2 separate regions of the Homo sapiens genome follow, and region 1 is linked to region 2. A link means that fine-mapping ties the variant in region 2 to the expression of a gene that starts in the linked region. Tissue or cell type: whole blood. Region 2 holds a variant in brackets; the other region holds the start of a gene. All regions are shown on one strand. Distances are between the middles of the regions.

Region 1 (7,686 bases), 60 kb after region 2:
GTACAAATTGTTCACGACTACCTGCTTGGGCAATGCCTGTACCATACTGTTTGTTAAATATGTGGACTATCTTACCTAAACCTATCTTTATCTGATGTATTAACTTACAACATGGATATGCTATATACAAAAACAAACTCCAGTTGGTTTAAGCAACCAGATGTAAAACCAAAACTCTAAGCACATTTTTAATTCCTTTACTCTCATTTTTCCAAAATAAAAAGGTTTTTTTCTTATCATACAAAGAATGCATGCTCATTCTATTAAATGGTCAGCTACTCCGAAGAGGAAATCACTTGAAACCCAGCCACAGAAAATAATAGTATTTTAATGGACCTTCTTCTAGGTATCTCTTGATGCATATAAACATAAATACGTACATAAGTGTACATATATTATGCATACATATTAAACTAATCCAAATTCTTCAGGACACAGTCATATTCTCTTCACAGAGTTCCCATAACCTAAGAATACAATTTACCCAGAATTATTTTACTGAGTTTGACAGACACCCAGGCTCCATGTTGCCTTTTGATTGCCAGTGACAATGTCAGCTGCAATAACTTAAGCTCTTGTTCTAAACATGGCCAGAAGCCCATTCCATATTCTCTGAGGAAATACCTAATCACATTTGCAATGGGTTTTCCAATAATTTACTACCCATATTCCTTGATCCAACCACTACACCATTAAGGCATCATACTGAGCAGTTCAATAAGTGGTTTAAAGATGTGCTACCAGATGACTGTAGAGTCTTCAGTTCAGGTACTCTGATAAGAACTTAGTGCACTCTAGGACCTGTCCCATAACCAATTATTCCATAGCCGTTTTCACAGTGGGCCACCCTCACTGATTTGAGTAAAATGGTATCCATTTCTGTGTGGTCCTGCATTTTCTGCTGGGTCCACATTTAGTGGACATTGGTGGGTCCCACCATAGGTCTGCCATCACTTCTGATGGTAGTCTCACAACCACCACCATCCTGGGCTCTCTAGTTAGAGTTAACTTACCAAGAGACAGGTTGTTAGGAGCACAAGCAATACTGGCTTTTCTCCTGGGGGCTCTTCTCTTGAGGAAAGGCAGGAATTTGAGGCACTGAGGGAGGAAAAAGAGCCACTCATAAATTGCCAGCCTACTTCCTACACCTTCTAGATTCAGGGTAACTCAAGAACATCCCATCTCTAACCAAATGACCATTTTAAGTTCAAATGAAAGAATATCGTTATTATCCTAGAGGAGTATCTCCAGTGACAAAAATTAGTGAGTTGGCAGACTTCAGAGAGATGTGACAATGTACAAAGAGGGCAGGTCCTTCCTAGGACTAAGCATCTGGGCGTAAAAATTTCTTTATACGACATCAGGTTGGAGCCCAATGGCTCCCCTAAGTCTACTGGAAAAGCCATTGATTTCAAAAGTCAAATGCTGCAGGGCTACAATAGAGGGCAGTAGGACCAGTAATGGACTCAGTCAAGAGGTGTGGATTCTAGTCTCAGCTCTGCCACCAATTTGTTCAATGACCTAACACAGGTCACTCAGTCTCATCCATTTCTTATTTGTTAAATGAAATTGAAAAGCTAGATAATATTTAAAGCTTCTTGTAATATCAACATTCTACAAAGCTTTGATTCTATATACAGATGGGAAAAGAGCAAAAACCTCAAATCAAGCCCTTCCAGTCCATCTTTGATTGAATCTGTTTATTCATTTATTTGAAAAGTACTAAATGAGCTAGCCGTGAGGTGAATGGGTCTTGTTAAGAACGGGCTGAATCAACAGCAGGGAAACTTCCTGTCAGTTATCCTCCTACAATTAGAATTGGGGGAATTTCTCGAAAATAACAAGAGGATTGCCTTTGTGTAAGGAGTATCTGCTGTAAGATGTTAAGGACTCTTCATAAGGGAAAGGTTTCAAGAACCCTCCTAATGCAAAGAACACTGTATTCAAAGGCAGGAACCTGGTTTCCTGTCTAATACATCCCAATCCACTAGCATCTCTTAACTGACACTGAACAAACTGTTTAATTATTTTCAAACGTCTCTTTTATTTCCTCATTTGGTCAAATAAGCCAGCAATTATTTTCAAGCTTGCAGTCAACCTTTAATATTTAGCTCAAATGTGAAACTTCACACCTCTTCCTTGTGGGAAAATTTTGACTTTTCCAAGGCCCTTCCTCGTCTACATTCTCAAAGAATTTTACAAGTTTCTACTGTAGGACTTTCTAGTCTGATTACATTCTGTCTTCCACCAGCAAACTTACAAGTATGGCATGGGCTCCAGGACTAGGACTTTTGAACAAGTTACCTAACCTTTTTTTGCTCCAGTTTTTTCAACTGTTAAATGGAGACGATACCAGTAACTACTTTATAGGGTTGTCGTAATGAATAAGTGGGTTACTACATGGCAACTACTTAGAAGAATGCCAGCTGGTAAGCATTCAATAAATAGTGCCTGCTGTTAAAGTATTGAGTCTACATGTCTTCATACGGTACCTATTTTGTTGTTGTTAGAGAAGAATAAATAATGAAGGGAAGGCACTAATTCTTGCATATACTTACTTCAACCCGCACAACTTTGGGAAACGGCAAGGCAGGAAACAGTATTTACTTCTGGAAATCAGAAAACTAAAGTGCCCAGAAGTTCACTGACATGCTTAAGTATGTATAAATCGAACCCAGGTCCTCCGACTCCCAGCCTAGGGCTCTCGAACAGCCTCTCCTTTCTTCATGGCAAGTTTGCCCTAGGCCTCGGGCCTCCGCTCCACAGGCCCTCCAGGAAGAAAAACGCCCTGCTTCCCGAGGGAGGAGCTGGAATCGACCCGCGGCAGCCGGGCACAGCAGAAACCGCTCACCATGCGCTTCCCGCGGCGCTCCCCGCGGCGCTCCCCTCTCGCACCTTGCAACACTCAGGTCCCTGGGTGCTGCCCTGCGGAAAGGAGTAAGTCCCGGACGCGCCCAGCCGGCGTGACGTCAGCAGTCCGCGCCTCGGCTAATAACCACTACCGTCTCCTCTCTAGGAAGGTGGGAGCGGCTTCCGCTCGGTGGTTCCTTCCCGCACGCAGCTACGGGTTTCGGTGCTGCGCCGGTTAAGCCGGCACCAGAAACAACCTGCGACCCCACCTGGCGTGCGTCTTCCAGCACAGGGAAACGGGATGGAAGTCAGAAGGGTCGACCACAAGGAGCTCTTACTGTGCATCAGTTCATCCTGCAAGTCCGCCACATTTAGCTTCCTATGTTACTGTCCTTTGGGGATTCTCAAGGCTTTTCACAAAACTGGCTTCCACCTTCCTCACACACATCCTCATCTGGAAGAAAACTGACCTCTTCACAGAAACCCCTGACACCTTACTGACCCAGGATCTTTGTTCAGGTGGCCAAAAGAAAAAGTTCTGCAGGCCAGGCGCGGTGGCTCACTCCTGTAATCCCAGCACTTTGGGAGGCCGAGGCGGGCGGATCACCTGAGGTCAGGAGTTCAAGACCAGCCTGCCCAACATGGAGAAACCCTGTCTCTACTAAAAATACAAAAATCAGCCGGGTGTGCTGGTGGGCGCCTGTAATTCCAGCTACTCCGGAGGCTGAGGCGCGAGAATCACTTGAACCTGGGAGGGGGAGGTTGCAGTGAGCAGAGACTGAGCCACTGCACTCCAGCTTGGGTGATAGAGTGAGACTCTGTCTCAAAAACAAAACAAAACAAATCAAACACTGCTTTGGGCTCAAATCCCTGATTCTCAGTGTATGAACTTTGCAACTTTACCTCTCTGTGCCTGCTTCCTCACTTACCAGGTATAATAATGGTACCACAGGGTTGTTGTGAGGATTAAGTGAGGTTAATACGTGTGAATTACTAAGAACATCTAGTATTTTTTAAATCTTCAGTAAATGTTAGGACTATTGTCTGTGTCTCAAATCCCAGCTCCAGTACCTATTGTTCTGCCCTGACTTCACTGACCTTTCAGGGCCTCAAGGTAGCACACCCATCCCTTTCTACAAAACTTCAGATCTTGCTGGCTCTAACTCAGGAAATATTTGCACACATGGGCTCATCTTGACAGGTAAAGTCCAGAGATAAAGGCATGAGTGGAGAGTACCTTATTCACTTCCAAGCATTCCTACTGATCTGCAATCTCAGGACAATAGGGCTGTGTGCACACCATCATATCCCTAGTGTGCAGCATATAGAAGTGAACACTTGCTGTATAAATTAATGAGATGCAGCAGAGAAATTATCCATTCCAGGCCAGGCATGGTGGCTCACACCTGTAATCCCAGCACTTTGGGAGGCCATGGGGGGCGGATCACGAGGTCAGGAGTTTGAGACCAGCCTGACCAACATGGCGAAACCCCGTCTCTACTAAAGATACAAAAATTAGCCGGGCGTGGTGGTGTGCCCCTGTAATCCCAGCTACTCAGGAGGGTGAGGCAGGAGAATCACTTGAACCTGGGAGGCGGACTTGCAGTGAGCCGAGATCATGCCACTGCACTCCAGCCTGGGTGACAGAGCCAGACTCCATCTTAAAAAAAAAAAAAAATATCCATTCCAATCTTCAGATTGGCTGTTTTCCCAAAATGGAGTCCCTTTTGGACACAAATCAGGAATGCTGGTGCCACAGACTGAGGCCATCGCTATCTTTGGCTAAAAAGTGACCCTTTGTAAAATTGTCAGTTGACATGCCATGTAACAATAATGTTAAGTTTCCCTCTCCAGGTGTCACATTCTCAGCACTTCTTTGGAATCAGATAGCAAGTTCTTCCCTCCAGCCCTAACATCTCACAGGCCAGAGACCCTAGGTCTAATTATTCATTCCCCAAACATTAGGCTTCAAAGAGTCTCCAAATCAGCAGGGTGTAGTGTGTGGAGGACATTAAGTCTGGAGGGAGGCACCTGAGGTTACTAGAAACCGTAATCTGGAGTTTAATAGCAGTTTGGGCTGAGCTTCTTTCAATGAGGTGGAAAACGGATGGTAGGGATGGACACCAAAAACGTTCCAAAACACTAAAATAACCTTAGCCCTGATGTGGCCACTGGATAAATGAAACTAATGCCACATATCGTCAAGATTAGGTTTCTACCTTATGTAGAAAGTAGGGGTCAAAAGGTATCATCAACTTACTTGTCACCCTCACACTCAGGAAAGTCTGAGATTTTGAGAACAAAAAGCTTCTCAATCTTATACAAGTGAGCTCCTCACATCCTCAGGATAAGGAAAAGATTGGAGCACTAAGTGGTCAATTCTAGGCTGGATGCAGTGGCTCAGGCCTGTAAGGGAGTCCGAGTTAGGAGGATCATCTGAGGGCAGGAGTTAGAGATGAGCCTGGGTAACATAGCAAGAATCTGTCTGTACCAAAAAATAATATTAAAAAACTTTTTTTTGAGACAGACTCTCACTCTGTCACCCAGGCTGGAGTGCAGTGGCATGATCTTGGCTCACTGCAACCTCTGCCTCCTGGGTTCAAGCAATTCTCCTGCCTCAGTCTCCTTAGTAGCTGGGATTACAGGCACGCGCCACCATGCCTGGCTAATTTTCATATTTTTAGTAGAGACGGGGTTTCACCATGTTGGTCAGGCTGGTCTCAAACTCCTGACCTTGTGATCCGCCTGCCTTGGCCTCCCAAAGTGCTGGGATTACAGGCGTGAGCCACCGCACCCGGCCAGAGAATACTTTTTAAAAATTAGCCAGGCATGGTAGCTCACGCCTGTAGTCCCAACTGCTTGGGAGGCTGAGGTGAGAGAATCGCTTGAGCCTGGGAGGTCTAGGCTACAGTGAGCTAGGATCACGCTACTGCACTCCAGCCTGGGCAACAGACCGAAACCATCTCAGAAACAAAAAAAAGTAGTCAGTTCTATAAAAAATAAAGAGGCATATGGAATAGAGGTATGACCAATACAGGGAAAAGTAAATGAAATGCAAGGACACTGCAGTTTAAACCTCATCTGACACTGGTTGTGTGGTCTTGAGCAACCCCAACATCTTTTCTCTTTTGTTCTGAGGATCTGACGTGGCTCCATCTGTGTCCTTCTAAAGTCATGAATTAAATTTCAGTGCACAATAAGCAAGACACTCAAATTCTTTATCATCCCAGGGCCCAAAATCTCAGGAAGTGCTTCCACTTTGGTACTTTTTTTTTTTTTTTTTTTTTTTTTTTTTTTTTTTTTAAGAGAGAGGGTCTCACTCTCTGATACGCAGGCTAGAGTGCAGTGGCATGATGCTAGCTCACTGCAGCTCCCAACACCTGGGCTCAAGCGATCCTTCCACCTCAGGCTCAGCATCCAGAATAGCTAGGACTACAGGCATGCACCACCATACCTGGTTTATTTATTTATTTATTTATTTATTTATTTATTTTTTTTAGACAAGGTCTTGTTATGTTCCACAGGATGCTCTTGAACTCCTGGCCTGAATCAATCCTCCCACCTCAGACTCCTGAGTAGTTGGGATTACAGGTGCAAGCCACCATGCCTGGCCCAGTTTGGGATTTGTAAACTGCAAATGCCCTCCTGCTAGGCCAGCATTACTCTTCAGTTCCTGCTATTTCATAGGTATTCCAGTTGACACAGGTGTGTTTCTGCAGTTGCATGCATTTTCCTCCTGTTGACCCTGACATCAATATAATTGAAAGCGTTTAGTTAAATTGTGATAGGACTTTTAAATCTCTAATTGAAAAATATTGTTTCTTATGGGATCTTCTGTTTAATACAATCTTAGGGAAAGTTTCAGAACTGTTGCTCCTGGCAGACACTTCGTGGACACGCATACTCACCATGCCTCCTTCCTGCTGACAACTGGGGACTTAAGTCACAACCTGCAGACTAGCACAGAGAAATGTCTGACTCTTCAGTTGAGTTCAACAAATGCTTATTGAGCACCTCCTAAGTACCAGGCACTGTTGATACAAAGGTAAAGAAATTTCACATTGTTCCTTCCCTAGCAAAGCTGACAAAGGGAAAGATGTGTGAACAAACCATTATAATGTAACATAATAAAATGATGAAAAATACAAGACAGAATAAAAAATACATGAGGTTAGAGACAGCTTTGAGATATTGCCTGAGCACACTCGTAAGTGAAAAATGGGAGTTTTGCAGGCAAGCAGAAGCAGGGAAAAGGAACTGAGGCAATAGGAACACTATGTGCGGAAGTGCCAAAATAGAGTCCAGAGGTGATATTCCAGAATCACAGGAATTTGAACTATGGAATAGAACATGCCAGGCAAGGAATGGCAGCTAAGGATGGCAATTCAGGCATGGGTCAGATGAGGGGCCTCACCTGCCTCTTTAAAGGACTAGTGCTTTATTCCGAAAACAATAAGCAGCCAGTTATGCTTATAAAGATCAAGAAGAAATGTGAAAGATGGCCTAGTGGGGCAAGAAACTGGAAGACTGGTAGATAAATTTTAAAATAGGAAGTCCAGGCACAGTGGCTTATGCCTATAATCCCAGCACTTTGGGTGGCTGAGGCAGGCAGATTGCTTGAGCCCAGGAGTCCGAGACCAGCCTGAGCAACATGGTGAAACCCATCACTACAAAAAAATATAAAAATTAGCCAAGGATAGTGGCACATGCCTGTAGTCCCAGCTATTTGGGAGGCTGAAATGGGAGGATCGCTTGAGCCTGGGAGGTGGGGGTTTGCAGTAAGCAGAGACCATGCCATTGCATTCCAGCCTGGACAACAGAGTGAGATCCTGTCTC
Region 2 (11,399 bases):
TCCCAAGTAGCTGGGACTACAGGCGCGCATCACCACGCCCAGCTGACTTTTGTATTTTTTTAGTAGAGACGGGATTTCACCACGTTGGCCAGGATGGTCTCGATCTCCTGACCTCGTGATCTACCTGCCTCAGCTTCCCAAAGTGCTGGGATTACAGGTGTGAGCCACCGCGCCCGGCTAACAGGGGTACATTTTAAGAAATGTGCTGTTAGGAAATTTGATTGTTTTGTGGGCATCATAGAATATACTTATGCAAACCGAGATGGTATAGCCTACAACATACCTAAGCCATGTGGTATAGCTATTATACTCTTAAGGGACCCCCATCATAAATGCAGTTCCTCATTGACTGAGACACTGTCATGCATCACGACTGTATTGACTGCTAGTAAGAACTCACACACAAGTTGAAGACCATAATTTCATTCTTACCTTCAATCTCATCCCTTCTGCATGGGTATCTTTTTGCCTTTCAGATCCTGCTAAATCCACCAGGTTGAGTAGGGAGGTCCGTATATTCACAATCTCATTACTTTTCTCCATTGACTCTATTGTAATTGTAAAGACGGCATGAGACCTAGACGATTCTCTGTTCATTGATGTTGATGCCACACGTCTATTCCTCCATCCTCCAGACAACACCTATGCAAAAGGAAAACATATTAAAAGAAATGAGAGGACCAGTTACAGTGGCTTATGCCTGTAATCCTAGCAGTTTGGGAGGCCATGTCTGGAGGATCACTTGTGGATAGGAATTCAAGACCAGCCTGACCTACATAGTGTGAGACCTCACCTCTACAAAAAATAATAATTTGCTATGTACAGTGGCAGGAACCTGTAGTCCTAGCTACTCGGGAGGCTGAGGTGGGAAGATCTCTTGAGCCCAGGAATTCAAGGCTGCAGTGAGCCATGATTGTGCCACTGCACTCCAGCCTGAGCAGCAGGGCAAGATCCTATCTTAAAAAAAAAAAAAAAAGGAAAAGAGAAAAAAAAAGGAACAAGAATAGGTACACTTAAAATGTAAAATAAGCACTTGAGAATCACTCATTTTATTATGAAAAATACTAACATACAGCTAATTATCTACTTTCATAGGGAAAAAGAAATATATTTACATAAAGCATATTTTCTATTTAGAACAGGGGTGAGGAGTATCTATTGCCTTCCATTGTTATCTAGCTTTATAAGATAAATTATATTATCCCAAGTTCCAAATGGTACACAACAGCCACCAAAATCAGTAGGAAATTTGTAAAGGGTGGTGAGAAAGATTACTGGTCCATTAAGGAATAAGCTGAAGTTATTTTCCTTTCCTTTGTGTTCCCTTTCCACATTACAGAAACAGAACAAACAGGAAATCAGAGCGCATAGGATCTAGAACTGGTTTTGCCACGCTTTATTTGTGTTAACCTAATGTAAATCACAAAACCTCTCTGAACCCATTTCTTTACCTAGAAAATGAGAATGTTGGACAGGAAAAATCTGTAAATTATCTTTAAGCCCAAAGTTTTGTAAGCTTTTGGTCTACAAAGTATTTTTTCCCTTCTATTCCCTATGGCAAGCAGGATACATGAAAGTTCAGAATGCAGGCTCTGGAATCAGATGCATATGAGTTCAAACCATGGCTCCACTATTTACTAGGCGAGGTCTGGGGCCAGCTGAACCTTTTCAAGCCTCAGCCTTCATATTTGTAAAATGGGAATATGGGTACCTATCCCATAGAACAGAACATATAAGTTTTAGGTGCATATGAATCATCTACAGATGTTGTTAAAATTCAGATTCAGATTCAGTGTGAGGTGGGGCCTGAGATTTTGCATTTCTAACAAGCTCTCAGGTGATGCTGATGTTCTGAGGACCACATTTTGGGTAGGAGGGTAACAGTATATATAGGGTAAAATGGGGAAATTAGTGTCTTTATCTCAAAGGGCATATTGAAAATTAAGTAAAATAATGTATACAAAAGAAGTTAGCACAGTGCTTGGCACCTTCACTCAATAAATCATAGCTGTTGGCAGGGCACGGTGGCTCACGCCTGTAATTCCAGCACTTTGGGAGGCCCAGGTGGGTGGATCATGAGGTCAGGAGACCGAGACCAGTCTGGCTAACACGGTGAAACCCCGTCTCCGCTAAAAATATAAAAAATTAGCCGGGTGTGGTGGCATGCACCTGTAGTCCCAGCTACTCGGGAGGCTGAGGCAGGAGAATCGCTTGAACCCGGGAGGTAGAAGTTGCAGTGAGCCAAGATCGGGCCATTCCGCTCCAGCCTGGGCAACAGAGACTCTGTCTCATCACAAAAAAAAAAAAAAAATTCGTAGCTGTTATAACCCTATTAATCAGCAACAGTATAAAACTGAAATTATTTGTATCTTTTTTCTTTTTTTTAAGACAGAGTCTCACTTTGTTACCCAGGCTGGAGTGTAGTGACATGTTCATGTCTCACTGAAATCTCTGCCTCCCAGGCTCAAATGATCCTCCCACCTCAGCCTCCAGAGTAGGTGGGAGTACAGGCATGCATCACCATGCCTAATTTTTTTGTATTTTTAATAGAGACAGGGTTTCATCATGTTGGCCAGGCTGGTCTTGAACTCCTGACCTCAAGTGATCCACCACCTTGGCCTCCCAAAGAGGCTGGGATTACAGGAGTAAGCCACTGCGCCCAGCTATTTGTATCTGTTATGTTTCTTGGATAGTACTTTATGCTTTCTTTTTATAACATTAAATACTGTATATTACATATTAAATACATCTGATACATTCATACAGCTACAAAAAACAAGAGAGAGAGAGAGATCCTCCAAACTGAGACAAATTCCAAAATACTATTATCTAAAAAAAGCGGCCGGGCACTATGGCTCACGCCTGTAATCCCAGCACTTTGGGAGGCCAAGGCAGGTGGATTACCTGAGGTCAGGAGTTCAAGACCAGCCTGACCAACATGGTGAAACCCCGTCTCTACTAAAAAATACAAAATTTAGCTGGGCGTGGTGGCAGACAGCTATAATCCCAACTACTCGGGAGGCTGAGGCAGGAGAATCTCTTGAACCCAGGAGGTGGAGGTTGCATTGAGCTGAGATCATGCCATTGCACTCCAGCCTGGGCAAAACAGCGAGACTTGGTCTCCAAAATAAAAAAGGCAAGGTATAAAAATAGCACAGTATGCTGTCACTTGTGTAACATAAGGGGAAAAAGCAAATACAAGCATGTTTGCCTGAATACTTCTACAAAAATCAAAATAAAAAATCAAAAACAAAAATACCTGGTGAGTGTTCATAGATTGGGAGACTCAATATTGTTAAGATGCCAGTTCTACCAAAAATAATTGATAGATTCAACACAACCCCACTCAAAATCCCAGCAGCCTATTTTGTAGAAATTGACAAACTGGTTCTATGTAAATGAAAATGCAAAGGACAATGAATAACCAAAATAATTGTTAAAAAGAACAGTGTTGGAGGACTTACCCTACCTGATCTAAAGACACTACTTAGCAACAAGTTATATAATAATCAAGACCATTTAATATTGATGAAAAGAAACATATAGATCAACAGAACAGAATACAGTTAGATATAAACCCATATGTGTACAGTCAATTCACCAAAGATGCAAAGGCAATGTAATAGGAAAAAGAGTTTTTTTCAATAAATCATGCTGCATACTGGATCAAAAACAAAAAGGCAAGAAAAGAGAAGGAAGTATTAGATGAAACAGGCAAAACACACTAAGAAAGATGGTAGAAACCAGTCTAAGAATATCAACAATCATATAGTAATGTAAATAAATTAGGTAAGGTACTGTCATGAGCAGTTAAAAAAACGAGCAAAGTATAGCTATGTGGTTTACAATAAACACCTAAAACATTAAGAAACAGAAGGGGCCGGGCCCAGTGGCTCGCGCCTGTAATCCCAGCACTTTGGGAGGCCGAGGCAGGCAGATCACGGGGTCAAGAGATAGAGACCATCCTGGCCAACCTCATCTCTACTAAAAATACAAAAATTAACAGGGCGTGGTGGCGCATGCCTGTAGTCCCAGCTACTCGGGAGGCTGGGGCAGGAGAATAGCTTGAACCTGGGAGGCAGAGGTTGCAGTGAGCCGAGATCATGCCACTGCACTCTAGCCTGGCGACAGAGCGAGACTCAAAAAAAAAAAAAAAAAAAAAAGAAACAGAAAAACTGATGGGAAAACGTATACCAGGCAAATGGTAATCAAAAGAATGTTCAGTGGTAGGTGAACATCAGACAAAACAGATTTGTAAAGCAAAATGTGTTGATAGGAAAGTACAGAATCAATAAATAATTATAGGTGAAAATAAAAGGAAGATATATACTAATTCTACACTTGTATATATACCTAATAAAGGAGTCCACAGCAGGTCCTCCATTTCACTTCATTCAGTGTTATTTTGTTGTGAACTTGAGAAAATAAAATGATTTCCACCCGGGGCAACTGTCTGTGTAAAGACCAGCCCGGCCAACATGACAAAACCCCATCTCTAATAAAAATACAAAAATTTAGCCGGGTGTGGTGGCACAAGCCTGTAGTCCTAGCTGCTCAGGAGGCTGAGGCACAAGAATCGTTTGAACCCAGGAGGCAGAGGTTGAAGTAAGCCAAGATCGCACCACTACACTCTAGCCTTGGAGAGAGAGTGAGACTCCGTCTCAAAAAAAAAAAATGTCATAAAGTATATGATACTCATACAAATACAGGACAATAAACAATGCAGTATGAAAGTACTCAGTGAGCCCGCCATATTTGTTATTGTTTGTTTCTGAACTGTATGGTGGTAGGAAGTGCTCCTGACAATTTCTACTTTGCAAACATTTATTCCCGATTTAACCCAACACCATGACTGCCATCACTCACTTATCCACCAAAACCTGGGTAAATAATTATCTTAGTTGTTATTATTCTTTTTAAAATAAATGTATAGTTGACATTTATTTCAATGTTTAATATTAGAAGTGTGTTGGGTTCTTATTGAGAAGTTTGGTGATGCTTTTATGACTGGAAATATGCAGTAGGAACTTAACTCTTCTTTGTATCAATTAGCCTGTAGTAAAATTGGTTTTATTATACATCGTTTCACTTAAAGTCAGTTTCCAAGAACCTATAAGGATGTTAAGTGAGGACTTGTTGTGTTTCCATATGTGTATGTATCTATTTTATATATATATATATATATATATATATATATATATATATATATATATATAAAATTAGACAAAAATCGCAATGAAACTGAAAAACCAACACCTTAGTGGGAAATCAGTGCATCTCTCTGAAGTATCAATAGATTACACGGACAAGAAAACTAGCAAAAATATAAAACCTTGTACCAAGGATACATATTCTTCTCAAGCACACATGACACACTTAAGAAAAAGGTTATTAATCCATAAATTATGTCTCAAAAAAAACTCAAAGACTAGATGTCACATAAGACCACATTCTTCGATCCCAATGCAATTGAGAATCAATGTGAGAAATAAGTTAGAAATCCTCACACGCTTTGGAATTTAAAATCACATTTCTAAGTAATTCATGAGTCAAAAAAAATTATAGTAGAAAAATATTTGGATCTACACCGTAATTAAAATATTAAAACTTGTGTGAAGTTAAAGAAGTATTAAGAAGTAAAAATTTATAGTATTAAATACTTATATCACAAAAGAAATGCCAACGTGAGTAAACATCCAGCTTAAGAAG[T/G]TGGAAAAAGAACAGCATGATAAACCCAGGATAAACTGAAAACAAAGAAAATATTAAAGAGCAAGTCCATATAAACAATAACAACTGTGTAAAAAGGAAACAGAATGGCAGTATGGCAAAGATTGTAAAAATGTGAATACTAGGAACAACTTTATGCCAATATACTTGAAAACTAAGAGGAAATTGAAATTTTTCTAAAATACATAACTTACTAACACTGACCCAAGAAGAAATAACATGGCTGCATGGCTCTATTAAAATATTGTTTTGTAGTTAAAAATCTCACAAGACCCAGATAATTTTTCAGATGAGTTCTACTATGTATTCTAAGAATAAGTCATCCCAGGCACAAATACTTTCAGAAAACAAGTAACATTGATAATAAAACAAGACAAAGAGAATAGGGCCAGGTGCAGTGTCTCACGCCTATAGTGGGAGGCTGAGGCAAGGTGAAATGCTTGAGCCCAGGAGTTCAAGACTGGCCTGGACAACATGGCTAAACCTCATCTCTACAAAAACATTCAAAAATCAGCCAGACATAATGCTGTGCACTTGCAGTCTCAGCTACTAGGGAGGCTGAGGTGGGAGGATCTGTTAAGCCCAGGAGGTCAAGGCTGCAGTGAACCATGATTCTGCCACTTGTACTCTGGCCTGGGTGACAGAGCGAGACCCTGTCTCAAAAAAAAAAGAAAAAGAAAAAAAGAAAAAAGGAATAGGACAAAGGAAATTACAGATTGATCTCAATTTTTTAAATTTATGAAAAACACTAAACAAAATAATAGCAAATCTTAATCGAGTACTTTATCGTGTTAACATGTTAAAGAAGAAAAAGCACAAGATTATCTCAACAATGGTGGAAAAAGCATCAAACAAAACTTTAACACACATTCTTGATTTTTTAAGACAGCAAGGTGGCTGATTATAAAAGCATCTTATAAAAATCAACTGCATTTCTATACACACCAAACACTAAATGTAATTTAAAAAAGAGATTATGTGCCGGGCACGGTAGCTCATGCCTATAATCCTAGCACTTTGGGAGGCCAAGGCAGGTGGATTGCCTGAGCTCAGGAGTTCAAGACCAGCCTGGGCAACATGGTGAAACCGTCTCTCCTGAAATACAAAAAATTAGCCAGGCATGGCAGTGCGCGCCTGTAGTCTCACCTACTTGGGAGGCTAAGGCACGAGAATTGCTTGAACCTAGGAGGCGGAGGTTGCAGTGAGCCAAGATTGCACCACTGCACTCCAGCCTGGGTGACAGAGCAAGATTCTGTCTCCAAAAAAACAAATAAAAAAATAAATAAAAATGAAAATAAGAAAGAGATTATTAGAGAAACTAAAAACATAAGGTATACTGGAATAAAGTTAACAAAAAGTATGTGTGACTTTTATGATGAAAATTATTAAAATTATATTGCAAGACATTAAAGATCTAAAAAGAGGAGACATACTATGCTAATGTATGGACTGAATATTGTAAAACATTGTAAAAAGAATTGTTAATCCCTCCAGACTGGTCTATAACTGCAATGTAATTCCAATAAAAAACCCAACACAAATTTTTGAGTATGTATGTATACACATACTACGTCACATGTACAACCTATCTCTCGCCGGGGGGAGTCTCAATTTAAACAGCTGGAATCAAGAGACTTGATTCCATCTTTTATTGAAGATAAAAGAATAAATTATAAAATATCATACAGCAGTGAAAATAAATGAAATGCAACGTAGATTTCATAAACCACATTGAGTTTTAAAAGTCATAGAAAGCTAAATATGTGTTTTTCAAACTCAAAAACAGGCAAAACCACATACATATGTGATTTAAAAGTGGAAGAAAATGATAATGACATTCAACTTAGTGCTTAATTTTGGGGAAGAGCCAGGGATATGGGATAGGGAGGACAGGTATCCTATTTACCTATTTATAGCATATTTAAAGAACCAAATATCACCAGTAAATCGGATAGTACTGGTGATACCAGGGTCTTTAAATTGTCTAAAAGCCTCCTGAAAGTTCACTTTAACATTATGCTTGGTAACTTACATGCTTGTGGCAATATTTCATATGTGTCAAATGCTTCATAATAAAAAACTTTCAAATCATTAAGCCAGATCAGATTTCATAAAAACATATCTAGAATATTTTGTAAATTCCTGTCAAGAGGTTTGCTTGTCCTGAGCTGAATGCTCAAGGTAAGTTAGCTTTTGACACCTAACAAGCAAGCAACGTAGAAAAGAACAGCCAGCTGGTTTAAAGGCCAGAGTTCCCAGAAGCCCCTCAAACAGGCATCTCCCAGGAGGAACCACTAAAAACATATGGACAAGTAAGAAACTGATGATACAATGTATCATCTTATTTCTGTATAAATTGCCCTTTCGAGGTTCCATTTTGAAAGACTCTTGGAAAAGAAAATACTGCCATATTATTTTATCTTTACTTCCCATGAACATTCTGTATTATGCCTTTATGACATATTTTTGGTACCTCAATTGTCACTTTTTGGAGTTTGGGGTGCATTCACAGCAGGTTTGTTGCCTAAGCACCAATTAAGTACTCATGGCAGGGTACCTGATAGGCTTCAGCAGCTGAGGTTACCACCTGCTCCACCGCACCAACAACAAAGACTCCCTTCTTGATATGCTCCCTTAAGTACAGTCCAGCCGATGCAGAGTCCAGTAGATCATATATCTGCTCGTTGTAGATTTCAATAAAGGAACACTTACAAAGGAAACTCTTTCCAGCTCCAGCCTGTAAAAAAGAAGCCTCATTTAGATACATTATTTTCATGTGTTCATACCTAGTTTTCATGAGCATTAATTTTGCACTCGCTTCACAAGATGTAAATTTCCTATGCTATTATCCTTTAATACAATATAAGATACCTAAAAGTAAAAAAAATCTAGATAAATAGTTTTTTTGTTTTGTTTGAGATGGAGTCTCACTCTGTTGTCCAGGCTGCAGTGCAGTGGCGCGATCTTGGCTCACTGCAAGCTCTGCCTCCCAGGTTCACGCCATTCTTCTGCCTCAGCCTCCCGAGTAGCTGGGACTACAGGTGCCCGCCACCACGCCCGGCTAATTTTTTGTATTTTTAGTAGAGACGGGGTTTCACTGTGTTAGCCAGGATGGTCTCGATCTCCTGACCTCGTGATTTGCCTCGGCCTCCCAAAGTGCTGGGATTACAGGCGTGAGCCACCGTGCTCAGCTGATAACTAGTTTTAACACATCATTATATTTTAGAGCTGCATCAAACTGTGGTGCCAGGCACCCTAGAGGCCTCCACAGGTGCCTGGGAGCTAATACAGGGGGAGGAGAATTGAGCAGTCCAGTTGGGAAATTCCATTTTTGTCTGTCTTATATATTTGATGTCCTCATAAAGTTTTATTTGAAGCAAGTGTTATGTTCTTCAAACGATTGAAAATAATTTATTTTAAAAGACTTTATAGGATTTTTAACCATAGAAATGCATGGTACTAAATTATTTCACTGCCATACAATTTGTGTGTCTAATTTCAGTGTTAGGTGATTTCTGCAAAGGAGTAAATGGTAAACCAATGTTATATATTTCTTTGGTACACAAGTAATGGAACATAAAACACTAATGGTTCTAAGCCCCGAATTCACCAAGCTAAATCAGCACAACTGTGAGAAGGCCCAACCTGGGAGCCAATGCAAGAGGAAAGACCATATCCCCAGGGTGATGGAGCCATACCACATGTGGAGCACAAAGATCATGGAAGGCAGTAGCAGGTGCTACAAAGGTGGTGAGGATGAGTCCATCACTGCTGGATGTCATGAGGATTTAGGGACACCTGCAGTCACCTGTGAGCCTAGGTACAGGTAGATGATTAGGCTTAGTGTATTAATGTATCTGTTTTCCTCAGTTGAGATTTTCTTTACAGTTTCTCTCTTACAAAATCTTTTTTTGAGAGCCTCAGAAGCACTATTTTCCTTTCTTGTAAACCAGCAATTTGGGATAAAGGATAATGCATGTTTTATAAACTAAAAACTCAGTTGAGATAAAACAACTCAGAATCCTTAATATTATCCTCAGAATTGAAAGGTTTTTTTTTATGCCACGCTAGTCTATTCATATTGTAGAGTACCATCCATGCTCCACCATGTATCATGAGCTAATTATCAGTAGCTACCTATTCAAAATTAGACATTTCATAGAACCACTTTATTTTTACATTGTTTTACCTTTTCTTTTTCACGATCAATTAAGGAAAACAAATATTCAAAACTTCGTGGGATTACTCCTCTCAGGTTATGAGAAAAATTATCAGATTCAGATGGTCCTAAAAAAATGAAAAAAAAAACACTGGATTTTTATTCTATTCCAAGAGTCTTTCAAAATGGCAATTTACACAGAAATTAGATGATACACCATACAATCAGTTTCCTACTTGTGCTCCAAGCAAGTTAAATCTAGGTCTGTGAGAGAAATTGAAATTTTTCCAACTGCCAGGTACCAAAATCTGCAGGAATATCAAATAATTGTCCTTTATTGCAGCACATTTGGTCTCATAGACTGACCTGTGCTCCAGGCCTTGGCCCCATACTGTGTGACCATAGGCTAATTACTAAATCCCTCTTAAGCTGCAGAGTTCTCAATTATAAAATGGGGATAATAATGGTAATAAATATCACATAGGGTTATTGGAAAGAATTAACTGAGAGGCCAGGCGCAGTGGCTCACGCTTGTAATCCCAGCACTTTGGGAAGCTGAGGCGGGCGGATCACAAGTTCAGGAGATCGAGATCACGATGAAATCCCATCGTTACTAAAAATACAAAAAAAAAAGTAGCCGGGCGTGGTAGCGGGCGCCTGTAGTCCCAGCTACTCGGAGAGGCTGAGGCAGGAGAATGGCGTGAACCTGGGAGGCGGAGCTTGCAGTGAGCCGAGATGGCGCCACTGCACTCCAGCCTGGGCGACAGAGTGAGACTCCGTCTCAAAACAAAAAGAAAGAATTAACTGAGAGTGTAAAGGTAAAGCACTTAGAGCCATGTTAGTGCTTTAAACACATTAAGTACTAAAAATCAGGATTAGCTAGTTGATTTTTTTAAAATTAGGCAATAAAAGCCAAGCTGGTAAGAAAAGTACTGTAAGAATATCTTACAAGATTTCCACATAGACAGAAAAATGCAGAGTCTCTATTTTGTTACACTGGGAAAAGGAAGAGTGGATATGCAAATAGCAGGATTCTAAGGAATTCTAATTCAAGTTATAGCAATATTTACCAGAAAAGTATATATAGCTAGAAAAGATCTAGATCTATTTAACAATCAAAATATTGGTGAAGTATGCCTTAGAGACCAAAGGAACTAACAAAATGCTGACATGCACAAGAAAAATAGAGAATAAATTTTAAAATATAATAGTTGTCTTTGGTAGAAGGCCTTGTACCACACCTGGAATATTTAAAATGGTCCTTGTAATCTGTAGCTTAAGAAATATATAACAGAGGTAGAAAAATGCAAGTAAATAAAGAGAATGAATATTAGAACATGTAGATAATTTTACATCATTTTCCCATTGAAGAATATATTATATAAAGATATAGTATGTTTTGCCCCAATTCTCATGTTGAAATTTGATCCCCACTGTTGGAGGTGTCGCCTGCTGGGACATTTTTGGGTCATGGAGTGTGGGGGGCACAACCCCTCATGAAAGGCTTGGTGCC

The links. PIP is the estimated chance that this variant, and not a neighbour inherited with it, causes the effect.
Region 1: it holds the start of ZNF501, and the variant in region 2 is the best candidate, but not a certain one, in a credible set for the expression of ZNF501 in whole blood (TOPMed, PIP 0.55).

The regions. Positions count from the first base shown.
Region 1 is chr3:44,724,888-44,732,573 of GRCh38, reverse strand. ZNF501 (zinc finger protein 501) reads right to left here and starts at 2,939. Exons shown (of 3, transcript NM_001258280.2): 1 at 2,559-2,939; 2 at 1,014-1,098. It overlaps LOC105377056 (a long non-coding RNA gene), which reads left to right and starts at 3,048. Exons shown (of 3, transcript XR_940788.4): 1 at 3,048-3,782; 2 at 6,704-6,895. RefSeq lists an enhancer at 3,059-3,128.
Region 2 is chr3:44,783,460-44,794,858 of GRCh38, reverse strand. KIF15 (kinesin family member 15) reads right to left here. Exons shown (of 35, transcript NM_020242.3): 6 at 9,917-10,014; 7 at 8,285-8,464; 8 at 433-642. Among named protein-coding and RNA genes, the nearest start is that of KIF15, 27 kb to the right of the region's middle. The variant T/G (reference allele first, on the strand shown) is at 5,710.